Regions from separate parts of the Homo sapiens genome. Here all the other regions are linked to region 4. The links come from fine-mapping of genetic effects on gene expression. A gene starts in region 4. Each other region holds a variant in brackets. All regions are shown on one strand. Distances are from middle to middle.

Region 1 (5,000 bases), 140 kb before region 4:
GCACAAAACATGTTTTTCAAGTTCATAGCCCCATATTTCATGAAAGGGTACCTTTGACTTGGTCAGTTTCAGTGCAAACATATTAATCCTTAATTACCCAGAAGATTCAGTTAACCAGAACATCCCAATCCCTTACTATATACTCAGTGGGGTTTTTAAAACAGTTTTATTGAGACATAATTCACCTGCCACAAATTTACCCATTTAAACTGTATAATTACATAGTTTTTGGAATGTTATACTATTAATTTTTTAAAATTGTTTTGAGATATATATATCTAAAATGGCAAAATGGCACATTTTGTTTTATATATTATATATAAAATATATAAATACATTATTTATATATTTTTATTATATATTTTATATACATATATTTATATATAATATATAATAAATATTTATATATAACATATATTTATATATTATAAATATATAAATATATGTAAATAGGCCAGGCACGGTGGCTCACACACCTGTAATCCCAGCACTTTGGGAGGCCTAGGCAGGCGGATCATGAGGTCAGGAGATCAAGACCATCCTGGCTAACACGGTGAAACCCCATCTCTACTAAAGGTACAAAAAATTAGCCGGGCGTGGTGGCGGGCACCTGTAGTCCCAGCTACTCGGGAGGCTGAGGCAGGAGAATGGCGTGAACCCAGGAGGCGGAGCTTGCAGTGAGCTGAGATCGCGTCACTGCACTCCAGCCTGGGCGACAGTGCAAGACTCCATCTCAAAAAAATATATATTATATATTTTATATTATATTATATATTATATATATTATATTTTATATATTATATATAACATATATATTTTATATATTATATATAACATATATATTTTATATATTATATATTATATATATTATATATAATATATAATATATATTATATATATTATATATTATATAGAATATATTATATATAATATATTATATATTATATATAATATATATAATATATATTATATAGAATATATTATATATAATATATATATTATATATTATATAGAATATATTATATATAATATATATATTATATATTATATATTATATATAATATATTCTATAGAATATATATATTCTATATAATATATATATTCTATATAATATATATATTCTATATAATATATATATTTTATATATAAATAAATATAAATATAAAATATATATAATTTATATATAAAATATAAAATATATATAATTTATATATAAATAAAATATAAATTATATATAATTTATATATAAATAAAATATATATTATATATAAAACAATTTGCCATTTTAAAGTATATAATTCTGTGGCATTAATTACACTAACAGTGTGGTATAACCACCACCACTTATCTATTTCCAAAACTTTAAAATTATCTCAAACAGCAACTCTAACCATTATGTAATAATTCCCCATTTCCCCCTGCCCCTAGCCTCGGTAACCTCTAATCTACTTTCTTTCTCTGTGAATTTGCCTATCCTAGATATTCCATATAAGTGAAATCATACAATATTTGTCTTTTTGTATCTGGCTTATTTCACTGAATGTCTTCCAGGTTCATATATGTAATCGCATATATCAAAACTTCATTCTTTTTATGGCTGAATAATAGACCATTTTAAGTACATACTACAACTTGTTTACACATTCATCTGTTGACGGACAGTTGGGCTCAGTGGTTTTGGCTTTTTTTTTTTTTTTTTTGAGACAGAGTCTCGCTCTGTTGCCCAGGATGGAGTGCAGTGGCGTGATCTTGGCTCACTGCAACCTCTGCCTCCCAGGCTCAAGTGATTCTCCTGCCTCAACCTCCCAAGTAGCTGGGACTACAGGCGACCGCCACCATGCCTGGCTAATTTTTTGTATTTTTAGTAGAGACGGGATTTCACCATGTTAGCCAGGATGGTCTCAATCTCCTGACCTCGTGATCCACCCGCCTCGGCCTCCCAAAGTGCTGGGATTACAGGCGTGAGCCACTGCCCCCGGCCTTTGGCTTGTTTTTTAATAAATCATGAGTTGCTGAGCATCTCATTGGGTAGCAGGGGTTTTTTTGTTGTTGTTGTTTTGGTTTTTTTTTAGTAGAGATGGGGTTTCACCATGTTGGCCAGGATGGTCTCCATCTCCTGACCTC[G/A]TGATCCACCTGCCTTGGTCTCCCAAAGTGCTGGGATTACAGGTGTAAGCCACTGCGCCCAGCCTTTGGCTTGTTTTTTAATAAACCATGAGTTGCTGAGCATCTCATTGGGTAGTAGCATTTTTGTTGTTGTTGTTTTATTTTTCTGTTTTTTTTTTTAGTAGAGATGGGGTATCACCATGTTGGCCAGGATGGTCTCGATCTCCTGACCTCGTGATCCACCTGCCTCGGCCTCCCAAAGTGCTGGGATTACAGGTGTGAGCCACTGCGCCTGGCCTTTGGCTCATTTTTTAATAAATTATGAGTTGCTGAGCATCTCATTGGGTAGCAGGGTTTTTGTTGTTGTTGTTGTTGTTGTTTTGTTTTTTTTGTTTTTTTGTTTTTTAGTAGAGATGGGGTTTCACCATGTTGGCCAGGATGGTCTCGATCTCTTGACCTTGTGATCCACCTGCCTCGGCCTCTGAAAGTGCTGGGATTACAGGCGTGAGCCACCGCGGCTGGCCAAGGGCAGCAGGTTTAAAGGAAGAGAGAACACAGTCATGACACTGGTGCTGTGGCTGAATTCTAGAAGGTAGTCCTCTTCCCAATTTTACTAACTGAGAAAAGTAACAAGGTAAGGCTCACTTGTTTAAGAACAGCAGGTTAGCAACAACATAGTGCCAAACGTTCTGACATTAACATCATGGTGTTAAGACCACGAGTGCTGTACTGTCTCCAAATACAGGTCAAGGCTATGCTTGCAGAGCTTTCCCAGAAACCTCCCTTCCTTTTCCTTTCTGAAGTCAGAGTGTTCCTAGGACAACATTTTGGTTCATAAAACATTTTGTAATGCTGTGACTATCTCAGCATACAGGATACCCCTCTCACTTCAATCTCCTTGTTTTCTAATAAAATCAAACATTTCAAAAATGGCATTAATGTAATGGATGAAAGAGTTACACTTCACCATCATTTTAAGTTAAAAAGAAGTATTTGAAAAAATAAATTCTGATTCTAATGCTCGTTCTTGAAAGTTTGCTTCAAGCAGGAAAACAACTGCTTTTCAGATTCTCTTTTTCACCTGGCTTTTTTTTTTAAGTTCTTAAGTAAAAATAAAAAAGTTCCAATTGATTTTGTAAGTTTTGTGATGGTAAAACAAGATGTGGAGCAAACATTTCAGAATACCAAACAGAGTTAATTAATTCCAGTATAAGCTCCTCACATACGGCCAGAGCTTGCAAGCAGATGTGCTGGCTAAATATCTCAGGTCAATCTTAGCACATTATTGAAAGTAACCTCCCATTCCTCAGAAAAGTCTGGCCTGCAGCTTACAAACTAGAGCAAACAACTTAGACACATGGAAAAGTAGAATTTAACATCTCCCGATTTCCACTCTCCATTTATTTCCAAACCTTCCATCTAAATCGGAAGAAAAAAAAAATGCCCTCTAGTCACACATAGGCCACACTAAAGTATTAGCCACTAAAATAAAAGATGAGGAAGCAATTTTAAATGCAGTCACCACAAATGTGTTTTGGGAACTTTCACCTTGTCTCTCATAAACTAGAAAGTGTACTTCATGTTCCTTTTGGTTTCGAATGAGCAAGGCATTTCAACTATTAACATTTCATTTCCACCACGTGTCTGTTTCAGAGCTAGCAGCTGGCCTATTTATTTTGCTAGCTGGTGATAGAATTAAATACAGAGTCTTTGAAAACATTTACAAGCTTTCCCTCTAACCTTCTGTGTACTTTCCAAATTAGGCTACTTTGATTGTTATTAGCTAAAGGTTTACGTACTGGAATACTAACACTGTTACCTTCAGAGTAAATTGTTTATAGCTCAGGTGCAGTTTAGAACATTTTCCTCCATGGAATACTCTTGAGATTGAGGAGAAGAAAGTTGAACTGGTTCACTCTGGATCAACAAGTTTCCTTTGTGAGTCAAACAATATTAAGGCCACACAGATATGGATGCAGTCAGGGAAACCAGTTGTGAAAATAGTTCTAGTCCTCTACAAAACCACAGGCTTCCTTTGTGAGCTCCCAAATGCTTTATAATCTCAAAATCACCATCGTCATAATGCACTCCTAAGATTTATTCTTTGACACTAGCGTTTTGATGTGGAAGACAAGGCATACGCCTGGACCCCAGGCCAGTGTGGGTTCAAATCACGTCTCCTTCACTTATGATGAGCTAGACGGTCTTAACCAAATAACCCAAGTCTTTAGTTTCAAAATCAGCAAAACGGAAATAGTAATTTCCACTTCATAGCTTTGTCGTGAGCACTTGCATTGCACAGATGCTCAATTAGTGGTTTGGGATGAAATCAAAGATCCTTCATCACTATAAGCTTTTCTCAATCTCTTCGGCCCACAATATCACTCATGAAAAGCATCCATTCATTCTTTCATTCAGTCAAAAACTACCTATTGGCCCTACTGGAGATAAGAAGTTCCTCCTCCATAGATTGTGATGATGGTTTCATGGATGTACACCTATCTCCAAACTCATCATGTTGTAGGCATTAAATATTACCATTTTTTGTATGTGGGGGAAAAAAGAATGGGAAAAAATGTGGCCCCTTCTCTTAAGGAATACACAGAGTACTTCAGGGGGTCACAGATATTAAAACGGGGGAAGGGAGGGTGGGAATCCAAAAGAGTGAAAACTCTAGCTGCTCCACAGAGTATTGTGAGGACCCAGAGAAATGGGCCAACTCTTCCTAGGAAAGTGAGGAAGAGTTTAATGGGGAAGATGATATTTGAACTACGGTTGTGTGTGTCTTTTAGGTAAGAAAGATGCTCTTCTTGAGCATCATAAGCAAGGAGAACAGCACAGAAGAAGGTAAGGAGTGGTGAGATGGATTGCTGTAGTCAGTGCAGCTACAGAAGAGA
Region 2 (5,000 bases), 740 kb before region 4:
TGATCCTTCACCAGCCCACGCCAGGCCCACCTGTGCCCCTGACCAGCGCCCACCCCCAGCCCCCACGTCGGGGCCCCACCTGAGTCTGTGGTAGGCCTGGGCCAGGCGCCCCAGCATCCTGTCATCTCCGAGCACAAGTACCCGGGCTGTGTGCAGCCGGGACACGCCGGGCAGCATTTCCCCATCCCCACTGGGCCGGCCTGTCCTCCGGTGCAGCCCTGGGGGCCCGTCCCAGCTGCCAGGCATCAAGAAGTCCAGGGGCCATGCACGCTTCTTGATGCCCCCTTTGCGCTGCAGCCCGGCTCGCTCCATCTCAGGGCTGCCGGGTGCAGGCAGCTCATCAGCCCCCGTGGGAAGGTCCCGCTCAATGCCGCTGTCAGTGGACAGCACAGAAACCCGGGCCAACTCCCGGTCCGGCCGGAGGCCCTGCAGATCCAAGACCTCCAAGTCAGCACTGAGGCGCAGCTGGGATCTTGGGCGGAGGAAGAGCACCAGTTCCTTCCCTGGGGTGGGGGAACAAGGGCGGTGAGGACACGTGAGGCTGGCAGGGCTACGTTTCTGATTTCAGCCAGTCCTCTTCAGAGGATACACACACACAGAAACACAGACAGACACATAAAGACACACATATGAACATGCACAGAGACTCACACACAGAGACACACAGATGCACACACATACACATGTACAGACACAGACAGACATACACACACGTGCACACACACAGACACACACACAGAGACACACTGAAACACATGCATGCACGCATACACACACAGACACACTGACACACACACGCATCATGCATACACACACACTGACACACGCATGCACGCATACACCCATGCAAGCACACACAGACACACTGACACACACACATGCATGGATACACACACTGACACACACGCATGCACACATACACACAGACACACTGACACACTCATGGATACACACACTGACACGCATCCACACACATACACTGACACACACTCATGCACGCATACACACACACTGACACACACTCATGCATACACACACACTGACACACGCATGCACACAGACACACACTCATGCACACATACACACACAGACACACTGACACACACTCATGCATACACACACTGACACACGCATGCACACTGACACACACTCATGCACGCATACACACACAGACACAGACATATACCACTGTTTCCAGACAGCTCCATGGGCACGTACAGAGCTGCTCCTCACCGGTCCACAAGTGGAAGGTGATGTAGGGGCTGGGCAGGGGAATGCTTGGTGGCCGCTCTTGGACAAGGTCACCTGCAGAAAGGAGCAGGCTGTGGAGGCCATGGAGGAGGCCATGGGACCCTCCTCTGCCCTCCCCATCCTGCCCAGCTCCTGTGCGGGGTCTTAGAGAGGTGGCAGGGACTCTCTCCTTCACATCTGGTCTGCCTTTCCATCTCTGCCACCACCAGCCCATCCAGGGCCCAACAGTGCAGCTGTCCCCTCCCTGTCCAACAATGCTTAGTAGCTACGTTTTCTCAAACCTAGCTCAACCCTTAGGGGGTCTTCACAAACCAGCTCACAAGGCCTTTTCCAACCTATGCTCCTATGCTGGCCATGCCTTCAGCCCTGTGCAGCTGCCAGACTGGCTTTCCCACTGTTCTTAAAATGCCCTGCCTGCATCCAGACGAGGCAGGAAAGACCCCTGCCCTTCTCAGGGCTGCTTCCAATATCTTGCATGCAGTAGACACTCAGTTAACATTTGCAGCTGTCGGCGATGCTGACGAGAACTCATCAACAAAGTTTGGGGGCAGCAGGAACCCCGGGCAGTCCAGGGGAGAGACAAAGGACAGCCCTTCTTCCTGCTTCTCTTTCTAGAATCTTTTCTGACCACTCCAGTGGCCCGCGGTGGTCATTCCCTCCGAGCAGACTGTCTGCACACTGGGCACACCTCACATGTGGTCTTAGGATTTGGCTCCGTATTCCCGTTTCACTTCTATATTGCTGTGGCTCCCCACTCATGAGGCTGCAAGCTTCTTAGGGGAGAGCAGCTAGTGTTCACTGAGCACCTACTGCCTGCCAGGCCTTATTCTACTCACCTGGCACACACTGTAATCATTTCTCTGGATCCTGCCAATGGCCCTGGGCAACAGGTGACATTATTATCCTCAATTTACAGGGGAGAAGCCAGGACACAGAGAGGTTGAATAACTGGCCCAAGGTCACATAGTAAATAGTACAGTGACGACTTGAGCCCAGGCAGCTCAGCTCCAGAGTTCCTGCTCTTACCCACAACACTGTGCTTATAATCACCACTCCATACTGCCCCCTACAGCCACAGGGGCTTGACGGGGGTGCTGCCTGGTCATTAAGATGCACAGGGCTTGGCCGGGCACGGTGGCTCATGCCTGTAATCCCAGCACTTTGGGACGCCGAGGAGGGTGGATCACGAGGTCAGGAGAT[C/T]GCAACCATCCTGGCTAACACGGTGAAACCCCGTCTCTACTAAAAAAACACAAAAAAATTAGCTGGGCATGGTGGCAGGCGCCTGTAGTCCCAGCTACTCGGGAGGCTGAGGCAGGAGAATGGCGTGAACCCAGGAGGCAGAGCTTGCAGTGAGCGGAGATTGAGCCACTGCACTCCAGCCTGGGTGACTGAGCAAGATTGTGTCTCAAAAAAAAAAAAAAAAAAAAAAAGATGCACAGGGCTTAGCCAGGTGTGGTGGCACGTGCCTGTGGTCCCAGCTAGTCGAAAGGCTGAGGTGGGAGGATCGCTTAAGCCCAGGAGGTCAAGGCTGCAGTGAGCCATGATCGAGCCACTGCACTCCAGCCTGGGTGACAGAGCAAGACCCTGTCTAAAAAAAAAAAAAAAAAAAAAAAAAAGGCACAGGGCAAGTCTGGGCAGGAGACAGGTGCCCTTGGATGTGTCTTGGGGGTGGCCCAGATGGTCTTAATTAATCCATGCAGAGTCACTGGTGAGTGTTAGCAAGGGGCCACAAGGGGAGCAAAGCCAGATTGGCCCCAGGGTTAGTCCCAGCTTGGGGTACAGGAGGAGCTTTTTCCATGTGGGATCAGAGGCAGTGTAGAATGTTAAAGTAAAAGAGCGGACAACTTCGAAGATGGAGTCTTTAGGCAGGGACTATCCTGCCCACCTCACCCAACTGCTGTGGCCTCCACCCAACCTGGGCTGCCAAGTTCAAACCCAGGGCCTGGCACACTAACCTCTTCCGGTGGATTCCAGTCCTTAACCCCATGCCTTATAATGACAGGTGCACGATCAGTGACTGTGCATATCTGGGACATGCAGGCTGACATATTCCATGATACTTTGAATGACCACGAAATAGGACCCAAATCAGAACCATCCTACAACAGCCAGGAAACACATATTCGGGACGTTTCTCTGGGCTATTTCAGATGCCCCCATCCACATGGGGCTTGTGTCAGGGTAGGCATTATCTTACCTACATTATGCCTTGCATAAGATAAGGCGTTATCTTATAAATATGCAAATAGGAAGGGTGAGGAATAAAAATCTATGATACCAGATATAAACGATGTTGACTCATCTGCTCTTTTAGATGCTCTGGTCCTTGGACGATCAAATCCTTGGATTACTGCAGCTGAGTAGTGAACTAGACAGCCTGGATTTGTATCTTGGCTTTGCCATTTACTGCCTTGGGTGATCTTGGGCAAGATATTTAACCTCTTTCTAACTCAGTTTCGTCCTCTGTAAAATGGGGATAATAATAGTTTCTGCTTATAAGTTGACTGTGAGGTTTCATTGATTTAATACAGTATACGCAATATATTTAAATATATGTAAGGTGATTAGAACAGCAACTGGAGTATAGTAGGGGCTCTGTGGGCATCGGCGGTTATCATGACCAAATTACCCACCTTCTTTTTTTTTTTTTTTTTTTTTTTTTGAGACGGAGTCTCGCTCTGTCGCCCAGGCTGGAGTACAGTAGTGTGATCTCGGCTCACTGCAACCTCCGCCTCCCTGGTTCAAGTGATTCTCCTAACTCAGCATCCCGAGTAGCTGGGACTGCAGGTGCCCACCACCACGCCCAGCTGATTTTTTTTTTTTTTTGAGACTAAACCCTCTACTACTTTAGTAGAGGGTTTCCCCATGTTGCCTAGGCTGGTCTCGAAACCCTGACCTCAGGTGATCCGCCTGCCTCGGCCTCCCAAAATGCTGGGTTAACAGGCGTGAGCCACCGCTCCCAGCCTAATTACCCGCCTCTTAGTCCCGGTCCTGCCAAACCCCCAGGCTGCCCCCAGTCCCCAGGCTCCTGGGAGTCGGCCAGGCACCCAGACAGAGGCAGGTCCAGCGCTGCTCTCTGGCGCCCCCTGCTGTGCAGTGAGCTGCCCCCGCGGGACTCTTGCCAAGGCCCCCCATCTGCCAGTCGCTTACCACCGCAGCGCCCCGCCGCGGGACCCAGCAGCGAGCAGTAAATCTCCTCCAGCCTCTCTACGTGTCCCTCCCGGCTCGGGCTGGCCTCGCTGGCCATCTGCTCCAAGGCGGCCACCACGGCGTGGAAATAGTGCTCCAGGGTGCGGCGAGGGCTGGCCTGTTGGGGAGGGGCGTCAGAGCCTGGGTCTTGGCCCAGCGCCCACGCACCCCAGCTCCTAAGCCAAGTCCGCAGGGCCCTGGCAGCCCAAGGTGACACCTCTCCGCTGCCCCTGGGGGCCCGGCAGGAGCTTCCCCCGAAGGCTTCTGGATCCCACATCCAGGGCCCTATGCCTGCCCTGCAAGTGGGGGTTCCCCTCTGCCCCTCACACGCTATTATGGGGAGACTACTGGTCTGCAATGTCTGTTACCCAGAGAGGCAGAGATAGCCACTGACGCCCACTTCCTGAAAGCGTCACCCAGCACTTGGATCAATGTTCTAGCCCCCACTAGATTGTGAATTCCAGGAATTCACAGGGAATTTTGTCTGTTTCATTCATAGCTGCATCTCCAGCACTTAGAATAGCTCACTGCACCAGGTGTTGTTCTAGGGGCTGGGATAC
Region 3 (5,000 bases), 180 kb before region 4:
ACATTCCAGCACAGAATGGACAAAATGGAACAACGTAAAGTATACCACAAAATGACAGCATCACAAGGATTAAGAAATATTATATGATGTCAAAATACCCGACTCCAATAATACTTCATCATTTTTCTACTCTCAATTACAGCCTCAATACATTCTATATATAGGGAGAGAGTTTGCTATATATTTTCAGATACATTTGGTGCCTTTTTATACTCATAACGGACTCATAATGGCAGTAGTAAAGTCATTATGTTATTATGCTTTTTGCTTATGTTCTTAATAATATTTGAAGACAAATGTTAAAAAAAATCTATAGTGAAGATAGAGTTTTTCTTGAGGGTATTAGTTTAATTCCCTCCGTTCCCTATAATTGATATCATACTCAAATTTATCAATGGAAACCAAAAATGGGGGGTGGTGGTGACCTCTGATAATACCGTACACTAGGAAAAGATACATTCCAGAGAACAGGGACACAAGGAAAAACCAATCTGTGACTTCTTAAAGGAAAGGTAATGCTTTGCCTATGGCATCCTATGGCAGGGAGCTGCAAGGAACTCCCGCAGATCAAAGTGGAGCCTCTGGGAACCACCCAGGCTTTGGGGACACAGGGAAAGCTCCTTTGCCTGGCAGAAATTCCCCTTGGCCACACTCGCTCACACCTTATACACAGCCAGATGGGCCAGGTTAGGCAAAAAACACAGGCTCCTTTCCGACTTCCTCTTGACCATAAACCATGGTCTCTCATCTAGGCTTAAAAATGTGTAACAGGAGTCTGGACGCAGTGGCTCAGGCCTGTAATCCCAGCACTTTGGGAGGCTGAGGTGGGCGGATCACCTGAGATCAGGAGTTGAAGACCAGCCTGACCAATCTGATGAAACCCCGTCTCTACTAAATATACAAAAATTACCTGGGCGTGGTGGTGGTTGTCTGTAATCCCAGCTACTCAGGAGGCTGAGACAGAAGAATCACTTGAACCTGGGAGGCAGAGGTTGCAGTGAGCTGAGATCGCGCCATTGCACTACGGCCTGGACAGCAAGAGCGAAACTCCGTCTCAAAAAAAAAAAAAGTGTAACACAGGGTCGGTGCGGTGGCTCATGCCTGTAATCCCAGCACTTTGGGAGGCTGTGGCAGGTGGATCACGAGGTCAGGAGTTTGAGACCAGCCTGGCCAACGTAGTGAAACCCTGTCTCTACTAAAAATACAAAAAAAAAAAAAAAATTAGCCAGGCATGGTGGTGGGCACCTGTAGTCCCAGCTACTCGGGAGGCTGAGGCAGGAGAATCACTTGAACCCGGGAGGTGGAGGTTGCAGTGAGCCGAGATCGCGCCATTGCACTCCAGCCTGGGCGACAGAGCGAGACTCCGTCTCAAAAAAAAAAAAAAAAAAAGAAGGGGGAGATATTTTAAATTAAAAGACATTAAAGAGGCAAAACAGTTAAACGCAATCTGTAATCTGATTGCTGGAGCACCCCCTCAAAAAAAAGTGACAAAACTTTATTGGGGCAATGGCAGCAATTTAAATAGAAACTCCATATTAGTCATTATTACCATATCAAAGTTAAGTTTCTTGGATATGCTAATGACACTGCAGTTATATAGGAAAACAACCTACACAGAAGAATATTAGGAGATAGATTAGGAACAGATGCCAAAGTATATAGAAGCATTACGAGACACCCTCACCTTACTTCAAACCATTCACAGGCTGGGCTCGGTGGTTCACAACTTGTAATCTCAGCACTTTGGGTGGTAGAGGCTGGTGGATCACTTGAGGTCAGGAGTTCGAGACCAGCCCGGCCAACATGGTGAAACCCTGTCTACTAAAAACACAAAAATTAGCCAGACATGGTGGTGCATGCCTGTAGTCCCAGTTACTTGGGAGGCTGAGGCAGGAGAATTGCTTGAACCTGGGAAGTGGAGGTTGCAGTGAGCGGAGATCATGCCATTGCACTCCAGCCTGGACATCACAGCAAGACTCCATCTCAAAAGAATTTAAAAATATTAAATAATAATAATTCGCTCTGGGGGGAAAAGGTACATAAATACACACACACACTCATGCAGCAACAAAAAAGCAAAACAAATGTGGCTAAACGTTAACAACTGGTGAATCTAGTAAATGAAGGGTGACCAGATATGCCTGAAGAATATACTGTTAACTTTTCTGTAGCTTTAGAAAAACCTTTAAAATAAAAAGATGAGGGAAAAAAAAAAGCCACAGACTTAGATTGGGTTACAGAAAAAGAGAGAGAGAAAAAAAAAAAGGAAACCATATTGCTATATAGATGGGAAGCATATGGCAGAGTAGGGTAACTAAAGTCCTAGATTTCACACTGGAGAAATAAAAAGGGAGCCTCAGGAGCCAAAATGCACCAGGAAGATCACAGACTGGGAGGAGCTTAGAAAAGCAACCCCTTAAAGTTGTTCATGAAGTCCTGGATTCTCCTTTGAGAAGTGCATACACGGAGCTGACCCCAAATAGTATACGTAGACATTGAGAGCTGAACTACAGGAGAGAAAACCA[C/T]CCAACTCCCAGTCTGGTCACTGGCTACTGCACCTGTGGGACAGACCCAAACAGTACTGGAAAGACTTTGAAAACTTCTTCAATGGTAGTTGGAACCTGTGGCCTCAACTCAACCAGGGCAATTGCCTGCTAAAATAAAAAATATCAACATCTCTGTAGGATTTAAACCAACAGCCAGAGTCTCATAAAATAATAATCAAAATGTCCAGGATACAACGCAAAATTTTGCAGCATATGAACATCCGGAAAATTTCAAGTTGCATAAGAAACCTGGGAAAAGACAACAAGATGCCATTGCTAAGAAGCATAGTTGTTGGAGTTATCTGACAAAGACTTTAAAGCAGCTATAATAAAAATGCTGGGCCAGGCATTTTTGGGAGCTGAATCGTGATGATTGTTTGAGCCCAGGAGTTCAAGATCAGTCTGGACAACATAGTGAGAACCTGTCTCTACAAAAAATAAAAAATTAGCTGGGCATAGTGGCATGCATCTGTAGTTTCAGCTTCTCAGCAGGCTAAGAAAGGAGAATCACTTGAGCCCAGGAGGTTGAGGCTGCAGTGAGCTGTGACTGCACCACTACACTTCAGCCTGGATGACAGAGTGAGACCCTGTTTCAAAAATACAAAGTAAATAAAAATAAAAATGCTCCAAGAAGTAATGGTGAACACTCTTGAAATATAGTCTCAGCAAAGAAACAAAAAATATAGAGAAGAACCAAATGCAACTTTTGAAACTGAAAAACACAATAACCAAATTTGAAAACTCACTGGATGGGATCAATAGCAGAATGGACATGATACAGGAAAGAGGTGGTGAACTGGAAGATAGTTCCAATAAAAATGAATAGAGCCTCAAGGACCTATGGGATAATGGGAAAAAGTCAAACATTCATGCCACTGGAGTCTCAGAAGAGAGAAAAAAGAGTGTGGGCCAGAAAAAATACGTGAACAAATAATGGTTGAAAGTTTTCTAAATTTGGCAAAGAACATACACCTACATATTTGAGAAGCTCAGCAAACCCCAAACAAGATAAACACAAAGAAGTCCAGGCCACAACACATCATATCCAAATTGCTGAACACTAAAGACAAAGAAAAAAATAATTGAACACAACCAAAGAAAAACAACACATTGCTTTATAGGGGAACAAAAATTTCAAAGACTGGATTTCTCATCAAAAATCAGAGGCCAGAAGGAAGTATAGCACCAGTTTTAAAGTGCTGAAAGAAAAGAGCTATCAACACAAAATTCTATAACCAGCAAAACTATCCTTCAGCACCGAGGTGAAATAAAGATACTCTAGACGAAGAAGTACTAAGAAAATATGTTGTCAACAGATCTACTCTAAGAGAACAGCTAAAGGAAGTTCTTCAGACAGAAGAAAAACGATACCAGTAGGAAACCTGAAACGAAGGATGAACAGCAGAAATGGTAAACATTTGGATAAATATTCTCCAGCTGACTTCTCTGTTTGGTGGATGAAAACCAAACTCATACTGTCTGATCTTCAATGCACGTAAGTATAATACATAAGACAATTATATACCATAGAGCAGGGTAGGCAAATGGGCCTATAGGGTGTAAGGTTGATACACTCCATGTGAAAAGATTAGATACTGATTCTAAGTAGACTGTAAATTTTTAAGTATGTATATTGTCATCCCTAGTTACCACTAAAACAATCTATACAAAAAGCTACAGTAAATAACAAAATAGAAAAATAAAAAAGCGGTACTAAGAAGTTCATATATATGATACAATTTATATGACATTATCCCAAAGACAAAAGTTTAGTGACAGAGGACAGGTCAGTCAGTGGTTGTCAGGAGTTAGGAATGGGTGAGAGTATGGTCGGTTTACAAAAGAAACACAAGGAAGTTTCTGGAGCAATGGAATGGTTCTGGGTCCCATTTGTGTAGTGGCTAAACAAACCTACACATGTGTAAAAATTCACAGAACAACAAACACAGTCAATTTTGTTTTGTGTTAATTTAAGAATTAAAATTTAAAAATATACAAGAGAGATACAGGTAAAGGTAGAATCTAAGAGAACACAGTATGTAAAGAACAAGAGGAGGAAAAACAATAGAAGCAAAGCAAGTGGCAAAAACAAAAACAAAAACAAAACAAAGAAAAAACCCACACTGTTGTCACAGAGGGCAGCGCCGCAAGGAAGGGAGTGTGGAATTTGCCATGTCTACTGGATGGGCTACTGGGCAGTCAGTGTCAACCATGCTAAGCGCGGCTTTGGATGTGGGAGGGATGGGGAGAGAGAGCAAAGTGTCTGAATTGCAGGAATGTATACATGTCAAAGTGTGGGAATGGGAAAACAGCCAAGTCTGGACTAGTGTATTACCAAAAGCTCATATTATTTATTTATTTATTTAAATTCATTTTTTTTTTTGAGACTAAGTCTCACTCTATTGCCCAGGCTGGAGTGCAGTGACACCATCTTGGCTCACTGCAACCTCTGCC
Region 4 (5,000 bases):
GTCCAGTGATAGCTTCCACCAATCTAAATAGATAACTGGGGGCCTGTCCCTTATCTTTGACCTTTATTTCCTACTTGATTTGTAAACTGAGGGATTTAGGTTCCAGAAGGTGGAGGGCAACTTAGGAATATGTATTGTAAACCAAAATAAAATTCTAAGCCCACCCCCAACACCCCCCCCCACCCCCGCAACCATCTGAACGGACCCCTACTCTAAGGCAAGGGCATTCCAAAGTTAACCTGAAACACTGGTTCAGGCCATGATGGGAAGAGGGGATCAGACATGCCTCATTATATATCCTCTCCTCCTTTTTGGAATTCAGGAAAAGCCAACCAGCATTAACGTCAATACAGACCTTAAGTCTGATAAGAAACACTTACAATGTATTCTCTCTAAAGCCTGCTACCCAGAGGCTTCATTTGCATAATAAAATCTTGGTCTCCACTACCCCTTATCATAACCCAGACATTCGTTTCTATTGATAATAACTCAACCAATTGCCAATCAGAAAATTTTTCAATCTACTTATGACCTGGAAGCCCCCCACGCCCTTCGAGGTGTCCCTCCCTTCTGGATTGAGCCATCATAAATCTTACATGTATTAATTCATGTATTATTCTCCCTAAATTGTATAAAAGCAAGCTGTTCCCCAACCACCTTGGGCACAGGTCTTCAGAACCTCCTGAGGCTGTGTCATGGGTGCATTCTTAACCTTGGCAAAATAAACTTTCTAAATTGACTGAGACCTGTCTCAGATACTTTGGGGTTCACAGTATCAAGGGCCTTAAAAATGTTTATACCCTTGAGCCCAACAGTTCTATTTCACTTTCAACAGTCTAATGAGAAAGCCACTTAGTCAAACTGATTGAGAATAACAAAAAAAGTATAAATGCTTCACTTTCAACAGTTCTAATTCCTACTTCTAGACAGGGAGCCCAAGGAAATAAGAGATAGAACAAAGGGACTCCCTTTGCAATGATAAAACAAAACAAAACATCAGAAAAACAAAAAACTAATAGGAGAAAAATAAATTATGGTCATTCATGTGATGCATTATTTTGCAACATAAGACAATTATGAGGCCAGGTGCGGTGGCTCACACCTGTAATCCCAGCACTTTGGGAGGCCAAGGCGGGCAGATTGCCTGAGCTCAGGAGTTCAAGATCAGCCTAGGCAACACGGTAAAACCCTGTCTCTACTAAAATACAAAAAATTAGCTGGGCGTGGCTGCGTGCGCCTGTAGTCCCAGCTACTCCAGAGGCTGAGGCAGGAGAGTTGCTTAAGCCCAGGAGGTGGAGGTTGCAGTGAGCCATGATCGCGCCATTGCACTCCAGCCTGGGTGACAGACAGAGCAAGACTCCGTCTCAAAAAAAAAAAAAAGAAGAAAAGAAAGTTATGCTTTCAAAGAATGTCCAATGACATAGAGAAATGCTGTTTATATTATATATATATATAAAAATATAGATTAAAATAACAAATTCATTGTAAAAAAATCATTAATGGCTATTTCCAAATTATAGAGTTAAAGATGCTATTTATTTTCCTTTTTGCAAATTTTCAATATTCTCTAAATTGAATATTCTCTATCAAGGGGTGTATATAACTGTTAAAATTAGGGATTTTGGGGTTTTTTATTTTTTTTTGAGACGGAGTTTCGCTCGTGTTGCCCAGGCTGGAGTGCAATGGCACGATCTCAGCTCACCACAACCTACACCTCCCGGGTTCAAGCGATTCTCCTGCCTCAGTCTCCCGAGTAGCTGGGATTACAGGCATGTACTACCATGCCCGGCTAATTTTGTATTTTTAGTAGAGACGGGGTTTCTCCATGTTGGTCAGGCTGGTCTCGACCTCCCGACCTCAGGTGATCTGCCTGCCTCGGCCTCCCAAAGTACTGGGATTACAGGCGTGAGCCACCACCGCGTCCGGCCTAAAATTAGGTTTAAAAAAGTAAATGCTAAATTAAATAATTGGCCCAAATAACCTAGATTCCAGGTAACTCAACTTTGTTCTTGGAATCCATTCTTCTAATATCCAGGATGTGGGCAACTTAAACAATTATAAACTATATTAGAAATAACAACATAAGACACATATTCCAACAAGAACGTTATAGAGCTGTAATATGTTTTTAATTATTAAGCAGAAAGGTCAAGTCTATGTTCAATAACAATACGTTCCTTGGGATCAAACAATATGTTCCTTGGGATCAAAAGTTGCATCTTTCATCATGCAGTCCTTGGGATTAACTGCTAAATAAATCACCCTTATCAGCTATTGTTTTACTGCAGAAGCTACTGCTAAAGGAAAAGACTTCATGATATTAACTCAAGAAAGTGCAAAATGCCTTATAAACAAGTGCACAATTTCCCTCCCAGGTTCCTGTATCTGGAAGGGCCCCCAAGATCTAGGTCTTAGCCCCAGCTGGTTACTAACTGGCTGGTGGCCATGGATTCTGAACCTCGGTTTCTCCACCTGTGAAATAAGGGGGTTTACCGGGATGGACTGACATGCTACAAAAACGTTATTTCGACTTCACTTTTATAGGAGTCCAGGGAAGCCTGCACCAGCCAGCTAGCTCCAAAACCAGGATGGGCGGGAAATCCCCGCAACGAGATGCAGCCCAGAAAAGCTAAAGGAATATTCAGAGATTTGGCGTAAGTCCTCAGCTCTCCAGCGGACCACCTGGTCTCCTTCCCGGGCCACCCTTGCAAGGACCAAGTGTGGCGGGATGTGGCTGAGCCCCCTCAGTAAAGGAAAGGTCTCGCTGCCCCTCCCCTCATCCCGAAAGGCCACCAGCGGCAATGCGAAGTGATTGCCTGCTCTCCGGAAGCCCGGCCTCCCCGAAGGTCCCTCCACGCACCGCCGCCCTCACCCGGGACTCACCAGGGGTCCGGTGCCATCCTGCAGACTCCGCCCGCCGCTCGGACTCTTCCTGCTCTTAGCAGCTGACTACGGCGGCCCGCGCGGCTCACTCCCCGCAGTTCGTCCCGTGCGCGACCGGAGCCTGGAGTTTGCAAAGTGAGTAGCTAGGGCCTCAGAACTATAATCAGAGAAAGCAAAGCGCTCCCCTGCGGACAGTACACTGGAGCAATCTACTCCCACCAAGAGACGCGAACTGCTAAGCTCAGTTAAAATTGTTAAATAGAAACAAAGCATTTTCCCAGGAAGGTGGGAGCGCTGCAAGACCTCTCTGTAGCAGTTACTTAAAAATTTATCCTGCTTCAAAAACAAAACAATAAACAAAACACTAGATTGCGGTGAGACTTGCACGCTGCGTAAACTCACTACAACCTACTTTAAGTTAACTTTATGATATGTAAATTATACCTCAACGCTTTTTAAAAAATCTTTAAAATTTTTTTCACACTGCTCCAAACAGGGGCCCAAAGAAGTATCAATTATATATATTTTTTATAGCAGCCTTCCTATCAGTCCTGTACGCCTGATTACATATTTTTTAAATGCCATTCATTCGGTGCTTGATTTTAGAGTTACTAAGAAGTCACAGACTCTACACAAGGGGATGGAGGAATTAGTTCTGCGCAGTTAGTGCCATCCCCTAAATTTCCAGAGAAATAGCACAAAAAAAAAGAAGAGGAGTCCCACCCCATCTCTCTTCCAGTCCCCATACCCCTTCATTTCCAAGAATGCTAATGAACTCGAACTCGGCAGGCTGGGTTTCTGCGCGGGCGTGGAGCTGGAGCGCATGCGCTCGTCCGTTACCATAACGACCAGAAGACGCTGCAGCCACTAGGGAGGAGAGCAAAGTAATCAGAACCTCCCAAGGATGGATAACAAAATTTCGCCGGAGGCCCAAGTGGCGGAGCTGGAACTTGACGCCGTGATCGGCTTCAATGGTGAGGCCTCCAGCATCTTTGGGCTGGCTGGTTTAGGAATTCGGAGGACGTGTAGTGCAAACAGGAATAGTGAGACACCGGGGACACCTGAAAGGCAGTGTGGGACAACGGCAGGAGCCCTGGCCAGGGACACGCACAGGAGGACCCGCACAGCCTGACCTGCCCCAAGGCCTTGGAGAGTCACTTCCTCGATCCAAGCCTCAGGGAGTGAGATGGTTTTTACCAGCTCGGACAAGCGCCAGCACCTAAAAGGGACCAAATGCCTCTTCCCCAGGCGGGCCGGATGAGTACGGGTGGTTGTAACCCTTCTCCCACTAGGTCAGCCCTTCCTGGCTCTGAACCCCACGCCGCTCGCAAAGCCCTAGGCTCCTTCGTAACCACACAGAAGGATGCTGTCTGTGTCGGCCCCTGGGACCAGCTAGGAAATCTGCTAAAATCCCAACTGGCGTACCAGTGAGAAAGGGCTGGGAGGGAACGTGTGTTTGAGCAACCCCCTGAGGGGATGTTGTTGGTCCTCTAATCCTAAGGAAGGTTTCTAAATGATGAGGATTTCAGACCAGGACAGAAGGGGAAGGGGACGCCAGGGGGAGCTAAAGCGGAGAGAAAAAGGGACTGGGCCGCTCCGCTGAAATCTTATTTGTGACTGCCTATTGTTTTGAAGATTCTGGGAAGAAAAAGCTGTGGGGTTTTATTGTTCGTTTTGAGGGGTTTTGGTTTTTTGAGGGATGAGAAAACAATGAATTAGATTTTAGGAGAAGCAAAACTTTTCAAAAATGTGTGTTGTGATGCCTGAAAGCTTTAAGAATGTGGATGCAGAACAATCACTGTCTAAAGTTTTAAGCATACTCTAGGACTTAGCTCTTGACTCTTGGTTTAACTTTAACAGTCTCCAATAGAAAGTGAGTGCTTTATACATTTCGGATATCAGATATCTTGAGAGTTGGTTACAAGATCATTGAGAAACAATTGAGCAGCCTACAGTGGGTTGCATAATGTCACTTGTTGAGCCAATGTAGAACCACACACATAGAACTCTGCAACTGAGGCCGGGGGCAGTGGCTCATGCCTGTAATCCCAGCGCTTTGGGAGGCCAAGGCAGGTAGATCACCTGAGGTCAGGAGTTCGAGACCATCCTGTCCAACA
Region 5 (5,000 bases), 140 kb before region 4:
GAGAATGGCATGAACCCGGGAGGCGGAGCTTGCAGTGAGTTGAGATCGTGCCACTGCGCTCCAGCTTGGGCGCAACAGAGCAAGCCTCCATCGCAAAAAAAAAAAAAAAGTACCCTACCTTTGACTTGCCAAAAGAGAGATAACCATAATAAACCCAAAGACTCCATGAAAGGCAAGTCAGAAGTGGGCACGTAGAATGGGGAAAGTACACTAGGGTCTCTGGGCATCTAAAATGATTCTGATTTTGAAAAATATCAATACACAAAAATACTGGTGAGGGTAAGATGGCCAACACGCTTCGGACAGATCACAGACACTTTGACCTACTTGGGTTTTAATCATTCAGGATAACAATTACGACCACGATCAACATAACATGGTGGATGATGAAGAGCTGGCTGAAAACATCTGAAAGAGCTGGCTGAAAACATCTGAAAGAGCTGAAAGATGTTTGGCCTGTATCAATGTGGCCCAGCTCTGGGATGTAGGGATCTAGGCAGATTTACAAAATAAAAAGCAGCATTGTTTGTCTGCTGCCTCCCACCATCTGTTCTTGCCCCAGGTTAGTGGAATGAAACAAACTCTCTGGGCAAGATATTGACTCACATTTTTCAAACGCTGACTCCTGGTTTGGATACAGAGCTGAGGTCAGAATTCTTAGGTCCTTTTCCAGCCAAGCTGATTTTAGGACAGGCAAGCAATCACAAAATACTCTTCTGTGCAATAAATATGAAAATACTTAACCTCCTTAGGGTATTATGAAGCATAAATCATGCCTTTAAAAGCCTGTGACAAGCTGAAATGAAAAGCGTTCAAAGTGGAGAAATACAATGAAACCACGACTATAAGCACTCACTGAATTTTGAGCAGACAGTTGTACTATTAATTTAATGAGGTTTATGGTTTTAAAAGTATTCATCAATAGCAAATATCGCGTTGCTTAAATATTCCATTACTCGATCATCTGTCTAAATGCGCTCTGGTCTCCAACATTGATTGGCTTGCTCAAAATGGCTAGTTTCTTTCTCTCTTTTCTTTCCCCACCAAAAGTACTGCTTAAAGGAGCCATTAACAAGAGGATTCACTCGTCAGGGCTACAATGACTTGCAGCTGGAAGATCCACCTACAAATATACATCCATTCATAAGGCTGATACAACAGCTTTCAGGGAGGGGATGTGCATGAAATGGACACAAGCGAAGAGTAACAATGGCAGGGATTATCTTTTAACTGGCTCATGAGTGAAAAAATGAAATTGCAGACGTCTGACAACTGTAGCTTTTTCAGTCAGTACAAATTAAATTATAAACCTACAGCTACACATTTACTCTTTATGAGTTGATTTCATGTTAGGCCTCAATAGTTACTTATTCCTGGTACAAACGTAAACCAGCAGTTGTGCCATTTAAGAGATTAGTTCAATTAATACTGTCCCTGCTAGGCTAGGCCTTATATCTATAAGCAATTCAGTGTCTGGCTTGCTAATTCATACTCTCACTTTGCCTTTTCTTTGTCAGTCAAAGAAATTAAGCTGGAGATCTCACCAGGCCGGCCACTTTCCCAGTCTCTTAGACGCCTCTGTTTGCGGCCATTGCAGTGATTCCATGATGAATTTCAATCATTAGAAAGTTCTTCCTAAGGTAAAAAGCAGAGCTGGAATCAACTGGTACTTATTCTGGCCTTTGAAATAAGGTATAAAAAGCCCATTTCTCGCTGGGTGCGGTGGGCTCATGCCTGTAATCCCAGTACTTTGGGAGGCCGAGGTGGGCAGATCACGAGGTCAGGAGTTTGAGACCAGCCTGGCCAACATGGTGAAACCCCAACTCTAAAAATACAAAAAATTAGCCAGGCATGGTGGCACACACCTGTTGTCCCAGCTACTCAGAAGGCTGAGGCAGAAGAATTGCTTGAACCCGGGAGGCGGAGGTTGCAGTGAGCCGAGATTGTGCCACTGTACTCCAGCCTGGGTGAGAGTGAGACTCCATCTCAAAAAAAAAAAAAAAAAAAGGCCATTTCTACTGTAAAACATTTGATCATCTCTCCTCTACAACACACTACCCCCCTCCCCCACCCACCTCTTAAATATCGTATAAATGCAAGTGTGCGCCAAGGACCAGCAACTCTGGCATCGTCTGAGAGCTGGTCAGAAGTGCTGACTCTCAGGTCCCACCTTGGCCCTCCTGAACCAGTATCTGTCTTTTAACAAGATCCCCAGGTAATTCATTGGCACACTAAGGTTTGGGAAACACGGCTTTAGACCAGTGGTTGGTAAACATTTTCTGCAATGGGCCAGGTGGTAAATATTTTAGGTTTTGTAGGCCATACGTCTCTGTTGCAACTACTCAAAACTGCTGTTGCGGTGCAAAAGCAACCATACATAACACACAGTCAAACAGCCGGGCGTGGTGGCTCACGTCTGTAATCCCAGCACTTTGGGAGGCCGAGGCAGGTGGATCACAAGGTCAGGAGATCGAGACCATCCTGGCTAACACGGTGAAACCCCCGTCTCTATTAAAAATACAAAAAATTAGCCGGGCGGTGGTGGTGGCGCCTGTAGTCCCAGCTACTCAGGAGGCTGAGGCAGGAGAACAGCATGAACCCGGGAGGCGGAGCTTGCAGTGAGCTGAGATCACGCCACTGCACTCCAGCCTAGGTGACAGAGCGAGACTCCATCTCAAAAAAACAAAAAACAACAACAAAAAAAACCATAGT[C/A]AAACAAACATGGCTGGTTTTTGTTTGTTTTGCTTTTACAAAAAGTTTTATGGACACTAAGGTTTGGATTTCATATAATTTTCATGTGTCACAAAATAGCTTTTGATTTTTTTTCAACCATTTAAAAATATAAATGCCATTCTTGGCTCATGACCTGTACAAAAACGGGATAAACCATAGCTTGCTGATCCTAGCTCTATACTCTGGCACTTCACATGATATCATTTGCTGGTTTCACCTGGGCCTGGTCCCAATTCTAGATAAGGTATTCCAGTTCATTAATGCAGCATGCATAACTGAATCAAACAAAACAGATGAATTTTTAACAGTACTGAGCAGAGCAAGACCATTATTTCTCATGATTTGAACATAGCATTTGTTTTGGTGAAGACCAATGCCTAACAAAACACTTATTTTAATGTAGCAGCATACAATGTGGCTGGACATTTGTAAACAATTAAAAAATTGATATCAGTTTGCAAAATTTACTTATATCTTCAATAGTCATATCTTCTCCACACTATAATAACTAATTGTTATGATCACTACTGTACTTACTGCCATATAATTTTTTTTTTTTTTTTGCGGTGGTGTGATCTTGGCTCACTGCAACCTCTGCCTCCCAGGTTCAAGTGATTCTCCTGCCTCAGCCTCCCGAGCAGCTGGGACTACAGGTGCGTGCCACCATGCCCAGCTAATTTTTGTCTTTTTAGTAGAGATGGGGTTTCACCATGTTGGCCAGGATGGTCTCAATCTGCTGACCTTGTGATCTGCCTGCCTCGGCCTCTCAAAGTGCTGGGATTACAGGCGTGAGTGAGCCACTGCACCTGGCCAAATTTTGCAATTTTTTAATCAGGAAAGCACCATCAATACTGCTTCCTGGTGGGGTGAGGAGGAAGTCTGGAGCTGGAACACATTCCCACACATTACCATTTTTTCCTTTTCAATTCTCACCCCAAAAGTACCCCCGGCATATAGGGAAAATAAAAAGACGCATGGCAAAGGGTATTCTGCAATTAAGTTCCTCTCCACATGGGATTGTTCAAACCTTGGTCAGGATGGACAGGGGAAATTTGCAGCCTAAATATAGTGGTGGCATAAAGTAGGTCATTTCCAGAACCATGGAAAATACCACTGGGAAAAGGGCAAAAGGAAGGAAGTCATAAAGAAGAGTTGACAATTATTTCTATAATGGTTTCCAATCTGGATACTCCCTTACAGCCTATTTAAGAAACATGGAATCGGATGATTTGAAACATATTTCCTAACTCTAAAATTTGGAGATTTGTTATTAGTACCATTACCTACCTAGTTATATGTGCTCAAAGGCTGGGAATCCTCTCTGATTCATCCCTTCCACTTGGATTTCCCTTCAGATCCATCCCCCAAACCTGCCGATTCCTCCTTTATAATCCCTCTCAAATGTGTCCCCTGCTTTTCATTCTCATTGTCACCATCTTAGTTAACACTTCACCCCCAATTTACTGCAGTTATCTCCATTGGTCAATGACGTCCATGATGTTTCACATTATTGCCCAATACAATCATAGTGAATCAATGATTTTTTTTTTTTTTTTTGAGACGGAGTCTCGCTCTGTCACCCAGGGTGGAGTGCAGTGGTGCGATCTCGGCTCACTGCAACCTCCGCCTCCTGGGTTCAAGCGATTCTCCCACCTCAGCCTCCTGAGTAGCTGGGATTGCAGGCGTGGACCACCACGCTCAGCTAATTTTTGTATTTTTAGTAGAGACAGGGTTTTGCCATGTTGGCCAGGCTGGTCTCAAACTCCTGACCTAAGGTGATCCACCCGCCTCGGCCTCCCAAAGTGCTGGGATTACAGGCGTGAGCCACCGCATCCAGCCTGATTTTTTTTTAAACCACAGTTACTGTCATTTTGAACAGTCTTCAGTAATTTCCCAACACTTGAAATGCCGGCTCCATATCCTACAAGCATTTCAGTTTCCCCAAAGCTATCACCCACTCCTCCTTCGCTTCACCATGGCTGGCCTCCTCTCCATCTCCAGCTCCCAGGGGTTGACTCCACTCCTGTGCCTCATCCTTTCTCACATGCTTCCTTCATCACCTCCAAACTGGAGTTAACATTTCAAACTCAGGCCAAATGAGAGGCGTGAAGATGTACTCAAATAATTACTAATCCTGAGTATGAAGGGGCAAATGCTAAGATGAATACAACATAATGCAAAAAGATTAAAATGAGACAGGACCTTTAGAAATTTAGTCAAATACGGCTGGGCACGGTGGCTCACACCTGTAATCCCAGCACTTTGGG

The links. PIP is the estimated chance that this variant, and not a neighbour inherited with it, causes the effect. A credible set is the group of variants that fine-mapping cannot tell apart.
Region 1: its variant is the best candidate, but not a certain one, in a credible set for the expression of STX8 in sun-exposed skin (GTEx, PIP 0.88).
Region 2: its variant is the best candidate, but not a certain one, in a credible set for the expression of STX8 in visceral fat (GTEx, PIP 0.90).
Region 3: its variant is the best candidate, but not a certain one, in a credible set for the expression of STX8 in whole blood (INTERVAL, PIP 0.56).
Region 5: its variant is the best candidate, but not a certain one, in a credible set for the expression of STX8 in whole blood (INTERVAL, PIP 0.71).

The regions. Positions count from the first base shown.
Region 1 is chr17:9,428,968-9,433,967 of GRCh38, forward strand. The region is part of intron 6 of STX8 (syntaxin 8); the gene reads right to left. Among named protein-coding and RNA genes, the nearest start is that of STX8, 140 kb to the right of the region's middle. The variant G/A (reference allele first, on the strand shown) is at 2,125.
Region 2 is chr17:8,828,488-8,833,487 of GRCh38, forward strand. It overlaps PIK3R6 (phosphoinositide-3-kinase regulatory subunit 6), which reads right to left. Exons shown (of 20, transcript NM_001010855.4): 9 at 4,402-4,558; 10 at 1,219-1,305; 11 at 80-503. Among named protein-coding and RNA genes, the nearest start is that of MFSD6L, 32 kb to the left of the region's middle. RefSeq lists enhancers at 1-699, 4,734-4,813. The variant C/T (reference allele first, on the strand shown) is at 2,452.
Region 3 is chr17:9,389,467-9,394,466 of GRCh38, forward strand. The region is part of intron 6 of STX8 (syntaxin 8); the gene reads right to left. Among named protein-coding and RNA genes, the nearest start is that of STX8, 180 kb to the right of the region's middle. The variant C/T (reference allele first, on the strand shown) is at 2,526.
Region 4 is chr17:9,572,909-9,577,908 of GRCh38, forward strand. It overlaps STX8 (syntaxin 8), which reads right to left and starts at 2,912. Exons shown (of 8, transcript NM_004853.3): 1 at 2,884-2,912. The coding sequence starts at 2,900. It overlaps CFAP52 (cilia and flagella associated protein 52), which reads left to right and starts at 3,734. Exons shown (of 14, transcript NM_145054.5): 1 at 3,734-3,857. The coding sequence starts at 3,788. RefSeq lists enhancers at 2,895-3,074, 3,867-3,996.
Region 5 is chr17:9,436,253-9,441,252 of GRCh38, forward strand. All of the region lies in intron 6 of STX8 (syntaxin 8), which reads right to left. Among named protein-coding and RNA genes, the nearest start is that of STX8, 140 kb to the right of the region's middle. The variant C/A (reference allele first, on the strand shown) is at 2,713.